Linked DNA regions of Homo sapiens: region 2 is reported to be linked to region 1. Evidence: microRNA targets listed by miRTarBase, many of them from high-throughput screens and not tested one by one. Region 1 holds a microRNA gene; the other region holds the end of a gene's coding sequence.

Region 1 (3,195 bases):
TCCCTCCATTTATTTAGTTTTTCTTTGATTTACTTCATTAGCATTTTGTAGTTTTTGTAGTCCTGTGTATGTTTTGGTAGAGTTACACCCTAAGTATTTAATTTCTTTGCTCATTGCCAGTATATAGAGATACAACTTATTGAACTCACTTTTTAGTTTATGCTAGTTTATTACTAATTATCAATACATGCTCAAGATATGTCAACTCCTTTTATTTTTATTAGGTGTCACTTGCTACATTTTGTGGAGAATACCGATGCTGTTGCTAGAAAGTGCTGCTGTCACAAAGTGGGTTTATAGATAGTACCACGCTATCCTTCTTCCTAGGCTAGATTAGAAGTTATTTATGTGCTATATGCACATAGAGTTTTTGATTGGTCTATTGCAAATACTATGGCATCTGAAATTTTTTTTTTTTTTTTTTTTTTTTTTTTTTTTTTGAGATGGAGTCTCCCTTTGTTGCCCAGGCTAGAGTGCAATGGCGCAGTCTCAGCTCACTGCAGCCTCTGGCTTCCGGGTTCAAGCGATTCTCCTGCCTCAGCCTCCCAAGTAGCTGGGATTGCAGGCACCCGCAACCACACCCGGGTAATTTTTGTATTTTTAGTGGAGACAGAGTTTCACCGTGTTGACCAGGCTGGTTTCAAAGTGCTGGGATTACAGGCGTGAGCCACCGTGCCCGGCCCCTGAATCCTATTTTTAAGTATAAAAAGTCTTTTTTCAGCTCTGGATTATGGTGCTGCAAGCTGATATTCTTCTCATGGCAGTAAACAGAGAAGTCCTAGGGGTAATCTTACCCCTCTGGGGAGTCCAGGATATCTGAGCATCTCCCTTTTCTTTTTACTGCTAGAAAGAATTTCTGCTAGTAGAATTTTTATTTTGGCCAACTCTGACCCCTTAGGTTGATGTCAGAATGAGGTGTACCAACCTAGGTGGTCAGAGTTGGCCAAAATACACATTTTCCTGCTGAGCAATTTAGTCTAGGTTAAGTCATACTTGACCATATGCCCTAGTTTAGCGTCCAGTTTGTGAACATTCTTTACCTGAGTTATTGTAATTCTAATCTCTTATGTAAAACTGCAGGTAGTCAGCCCTTTGTCTCCTTCAGTTCTACATCTGCGGATTCCTTCAACTACAGATTAAGAATATTTGGGGGGAAAAACAGTAAAAAAAAATTACAATACAACAATAAAGACAACAAATTTAAAAACTAGTATAACAACTTTTTATACAGCATTTGTATTGGGTATTGTAAGCTAGAGATGGCTGAAAGTCTATGAGACGATGTGCATACGTTATATGCAAGCGCTGCCATTTTATTGCAGAGACTTGAGCATCCAAGGATTTTGTATCCGTGGGAGTCCTGGAACCAATCCCCCTTGGATACTGAGGGATGACTGTATTTACAACATGTCTAGATTTTCGACAACTTGAATTAAACCAGAAAGAATATGAACACACAGAAGTTCATGTGTATATATATATGTGTATGTGTTTAGAAGGGAGCAAGCTGTTAAACATGGGAAATAGTTGCTAGTAGTTTGTAATTTTATGATTACAATTTTAAAATTCAATTTTGCAACTGGAATTTGACTTGATTGGTTAGTGCCTTACAGTAATTAACCTCCAAATCATCAGAATGTCATCTTGTTATTTAGGTAATTGAATCTACTTTTCTTGTATACAGAATGCTTTTTGGAAACAATACACTGTATATCTAGTTTGTACCAAGAACTAATTGTACACAGTCAGATACTTGCAGTTCTTTTGGACTTGAGTTTCTTTATCCTTCTATCAGATGTCACAATTCCCTCTTCCCTTTGTAGCATATGAAAGTAGTTGTGTGTGCACTGTATTTGAGAATGTCAAGTAATAGAATCTCTAGAAAACATTCATGATTTCAGTCCCAGGTAATCCAGAGTTAAAAATAATGTTCATAAGGAAGGGTAGCAAAATTTAGATTTTAATACTTATAGGAGGTGTGTTAATTGGCCCCAGGGCCGCAGGCTTTAGCGTTCAGAGGACTTTAGCCCCAAAGGTTTTGTGGAACTTTTCCAGAGTCCTCACCAGTACATTGGGAATAAATGGAATGCCTTTGGAAGTACTTTGAAGATTGAATTCGATAGTGTTGGTAAAGCAGTCTAGCCTGCTGTGATTGTGCTATTGATGCAAATATTCTCTAGCCTGTATTATTTTTCCTTGGAGCTCAGGAAGTGATCCCCACCCACCTCAAGCAGTAAAGGAAAGAGAGGCAGGAGGGTCTGACCATGTGAGGTGCCCCAATAAAGCATCTGTATTGTAAATCAGGAATGTAGGTATTGGGTTTCCTTAAAACAAAGCACACCTACGTGACCACTAGCTGGAGCACAATGTGGGCTCGGTCTGCTGAAAGAGTCAGTTGGTTGCGGCTGTCTAATCCAATTATGGATGGTCCCAGCGCTCAGCCTTTCAGCTGCTGCCCCTCCCCTGCAGACTCTGCCTCTCTCACCCTCCCTTTTAGGGCTTGGTCTGTGGCTACCCCAGAAATCACGTGCACTCCTAGGCTTCAGCGAGTACAGCCTTGTTAATCTCAGACATGGAAAGCAAGTTGCCTAGGTCTACAGATGAGTATTCAGTTTCCCCACCAGTTGACCTCAGTGCAGGTTTTGTTGGTTCCAGTCATTTGGGGTCAGCACCTGTTTGAAGCCAGGACACTTAGAACAAGGTGGAGGAAAACCTGAGGGTACATACAGTGTGGTTTCCTTGGCTCATCTAATGCAGAGTCAGAATGATTAGCCACATTGCAAATTGTCTTTACTCAGTGGTTTAATTGTTAACCAGGGAGTTAATTTTTTTTTTTTATTAAACAAAGAAGAAAACACCTCTAGATTTTTCTGGGACAGATGGCCCCATTGAAAGAGGCCATGTGCTGCAGCGAATGGCCAGGCCTCGGGTGTGGCAAGTGCCTTCCAGCTCAGTGCTTGCTTTGTGCTCCTTTGCCTATTTGAAGACGTGGATGAATCAAAATCTATAAGCCTATTTCAGTCAAGTATTCTAAGGAACCTGGAAACACAGGGGATTTCTCTGTTGCCTCTAATACAGTGAAAAACCACTGTCTTTTTTTGTTGTTGTTGTTGCATTGGGGGAAGAAAGTCCAGGTTTGCATGTACATTTTCACTCATAGGATTTTTTTTTAGAATAGTTTGGGGAGGACATTGT
Region 2 (3,102 bases), not on the chromosome of region 1:
CCCCACCCTACATCCTCTGTGAGGCTCCAGGGTGGCCCTGACTCCATGACCCCTCCCCACCCCCGCAGTGCCTCTCTCACCACTCAGAAGCCGAGTTTCCCACCTCCACGAGGACAGCCAGGTGGCGAGGATTTCCACATGTAAGTGGTGGGCGATGGTGGGTGGGCAGGGAGGGGGTGCTTATGGTAGTTACCCATGGCTGGCACATCCTAGGCACTTGCCATGTGCCAGGCACGGAGCCCGGCCCTTCCATACATGATGTTGATAATGTTCAGCCTCTGTGCTCTGAGCCAGGGGGCTCTTCGGTCCCCTCACCCGTGGGGTGGGCAGGGACAGCCGTCTTTAGGAATTGGTGATGGGAAGTGGTTGGTGGGTGGTGGAGGGCAAGAAGGCAGATGTGATATGGCTCCTTGGAGGGGAAAGGTTGGGTTCCACAAAGGGGCATCAGTGCCTCCCTGACTACTCTCCTCCACCAGGCTCGGAGCAGTCCCTGAGCACCCGGAGTCCAGCCAGCACCTGGGCTTATGTCCAGCAGCTGAAGGTCATTGACAACCAGCGGGAACTCTCCCGCCTCTCCCGAGAGCTGGAGCCATGAGGAGGGGCTGGGACTGGAGCTGGAGCAGGCACTTGCAGCCGGGAAAGCCAGGGTGTGCCGGGCCAAGATACTCACAGGCTGGCCACAGCTGGGCAAGGCTCTCCGTGGAGTGGACTCGAGTCCCTGGAGCAGGCAGTGTGGAGGCAGCCATCCCCTGTGATGACTGGCAGCTAAGGAGGACCTCGGAGTGGACCCGAGCCAGGAATAACGAATGACCCAAGGCCAAGGAAGGGAGGACAGAGAGGCCCCAGGAGTGGGTGGAGAGTGGAGTGCGCTGGGACGTTGTGTGCAATAGAGAGGTCTCCACACCAGATGTCTTCCAGATTCTGTGCCTCTGGCTTTGTTGTCCAGCCAGGCCTGCAGTTTATTTTCACAGTGGACAGAGAGAGAGAGAGAGGCTGCATGTGTGTACCGTGTGTGGCAAGGGCAGGGCCTTGGCCTGGGGCAGGGGCCCCCTGCTTTCTTTCCACAGCTTTCTTCCAACAGCAGGCAGTGGGGCTGCGGGCCTGTGCGGTGGTCCCTGAGGAGCTTTATTGTTACTGTCAACATAGTAGTATGTTCCAGGCCAGCCCAGAGTGGGCGTGGCAGGGAGGCTGAGGCCCCGCCCTCTGGGAAGGAGCTGTGGAGGAGAAGCAGCCCCATGCTGGGCACGGGCCAGACTGGGTCCAAGATCCTGATGCCACCCAGATGTGCCTCCAGGGCTCTGGCCAAAGGGCGGGCTGGAGCCTGGAGCCCCTGTCAGCAGCCAGCCAGGGTGACCATCAGCTCCCCGTGGTGGTCCAATAGGACTTTACAGTCCAGATGCAACTGACAGCTTCTTCCCAACTGCAATCCCCGCTTTTCCACACTTGAGCTCGTCCTGGCCTGTTGGGCCAGGCTTCTGGGGTCTTCTGGGGGTGGCTTGTGATAGAAACAATGCTGAAGCTTCCGCGGAGAGCCCGTCGCTTGTTGAGGCCCAACAGACTTCCAGGAAATCAGGGTTTATCATCAGTGTTGAGAATGGTCCCAGCAAGCTCTGGTCATACGAAGTCCTCTCTTCCCTGCCCCTTCAGCACTTCCCCTAGGAACCAGCTACTGCCAGGACGCCTCTTGCGAGGCAGAGCTCACCCAGGAAGCTCCAGGGACTCCACCCTCTTGCCTTGCTATTGCCCTGAGTCCTGGCAGCAGGAGGCACTTGTCTGGCCAGAGAGAGAACTCATGGCCCCTGGCATGACTCCTGAGTAGGTATTGAGGCTGCAGGGCCTTGGGCGTCCAGAGGCAGCTGGTATGGCCCCTCTGCACTTCAGCCCCATGGATGTGGATACACAGGCCTGCTGCTTCCAGAAAGGGTCAGAGCCTTTAGCAGGGAGGCAGCACAGCTGGGCTTAGACCTCAGGTCACTAAGTGAATCTGAGCAAGTCAGTGAACAGTTCTCTTCCTTCATTTCTCCACCTGTAAGCCAGGTATGATAAACGCCATACAGCGCTTAGTGACAAACACATAAAACTGTAGCTCCTGCCTCTGTAGCAGAGGTGACAGCCAAGGGCAGTCCTGTGCTATCCAGGCCTGGTAGGGGGGCAGCCTCGCCTCAGTTGAGGGCTGAGGGAGAGACTGAGGTGCAGCAGATGGCAGTGGTAACCAAACCAGTTCCCTTGCCGTGGGTGGGGACACAGGAGAAGCACGGAAGCATCTGGAACTGAGCAATCAGGACAGGAGGCTCAAGCCTGGGTGAGTCAGGAGTCCGGGGGCTTTCTTTTCATCCAACCCATTGTCTGCTGGTGTCTCGGCAAAAGCCAGCCAGCCAGCCGTGGCCCTTCACCGTTCTTCAGACTCTAGGGTGAGCCCAGCCCAGCGACACAACAGAAACCAAGTGCCACGGGGGCCGGTGTCCTCCACCAGCATTTCTCCTCTGGTCACATCTACGTCCTGATGGGACTTCTCCCTCCTCCTTGGACCATCAGCTTTACAGTCCAGACCACCCTGCAGCCACCCGGTGGTCTCCCAGCTGCCCCAGTCTCGGGCAGGATGGCTTTTGAGCCTGTTGGGAGAGACCTTGCCAGGAGAATGGTGCCCAGGGCAGGCAAGAGGACACAGACTCTGGGAGCTAGAAGAGTTGCGGCCCAGGGGGCCAGGCCACTCCCAGAGGACAGGAGGCCCAAAAGCGGGGAAAGGCTCCATGTTACGGTGGCCCCATGCTGGGAGTTTGTGCTGCCTTCTGTCTCCCTGACTGCCCAAGCGTGGGGTGGTGTGGGGCAGGAGGCATCCTCTGGTGTTCCCTAGCAGCCCAGGCTGTGTGCAGGGGCTCCCATTTTGTGTCTCAGCTGCAAGAAGGCCACAAAGGGAGGAGGGGCTCATGGGACTGCTGAGAAGAAGGTGTGCAGAAAGGGAGTGTGGCCCTAGATCAGTCCTTTAAAAAGCCTCTGTTACCTGAAAGGAGGTCAAGCAGAGAGGAATGGCTGCGTGTGTGTCCTACCGGGCAGGACAGGACAGAGGGAGGTCATTGTTACACACACATCCCCCCTCCTTTC

Evidence for each region. Region 1 holds the annotated microRNA hsa-miR-4714-3p (CCAACCUAGGUGGUCAGAGUUG, at 921-942, shown strand). A microRNA usually pairs through its seed, bases 2 to 8, with sites in the 3' UTR of a target mRNA and lowers its output. Matches are read on the target gene's strand: a 7mer-m8 pairs with bases 2 to 8, a 7mer-A1 pairs with bases 2 to 7 and ends in A, and an 8mer does both.
Region 2: miRTarBase lists RAPGEF3 as a target of hsa-miR-4714-3p. The part of its 3' UTR that is shown has no 7-base or 8-base seed match.

What each region holds. Positions count from the first base shown.
Region 1 is chr15:98,783,553-98,786,747 of GRCh38, forward strand. It overlaps MIR4714 (microRNA 4714), which reads left to right and starts at 874; the gene lies at 874-950. All of the region lies in intron 2 of IGF1R (insulin like growth factor 1 receptor), which reads left to right. It overlaps LOC124903560 (a long non-coding RNA gene), which reads right to left and starts at 401. Exons shown (of 2, transcript XR_007064772.1): 1 at 1-401.
Region 2 is chr12:47,735,060-47,738,161 of GRCh38, reverse strand. RAPGEF3 (Rap guanine nucleotide exchange factor 3) reads left to right here. Exons shown (of 28, transcript NM_001098531.4): 27 at 69-140; 28 at 477-3,102. The coding sequence ends at 595. Among named protein-coding and RNA genes, the nearest start is that of ENDOU, 11 kb to the right of the region's middle. RefSeq lists an enhancer at 1-17.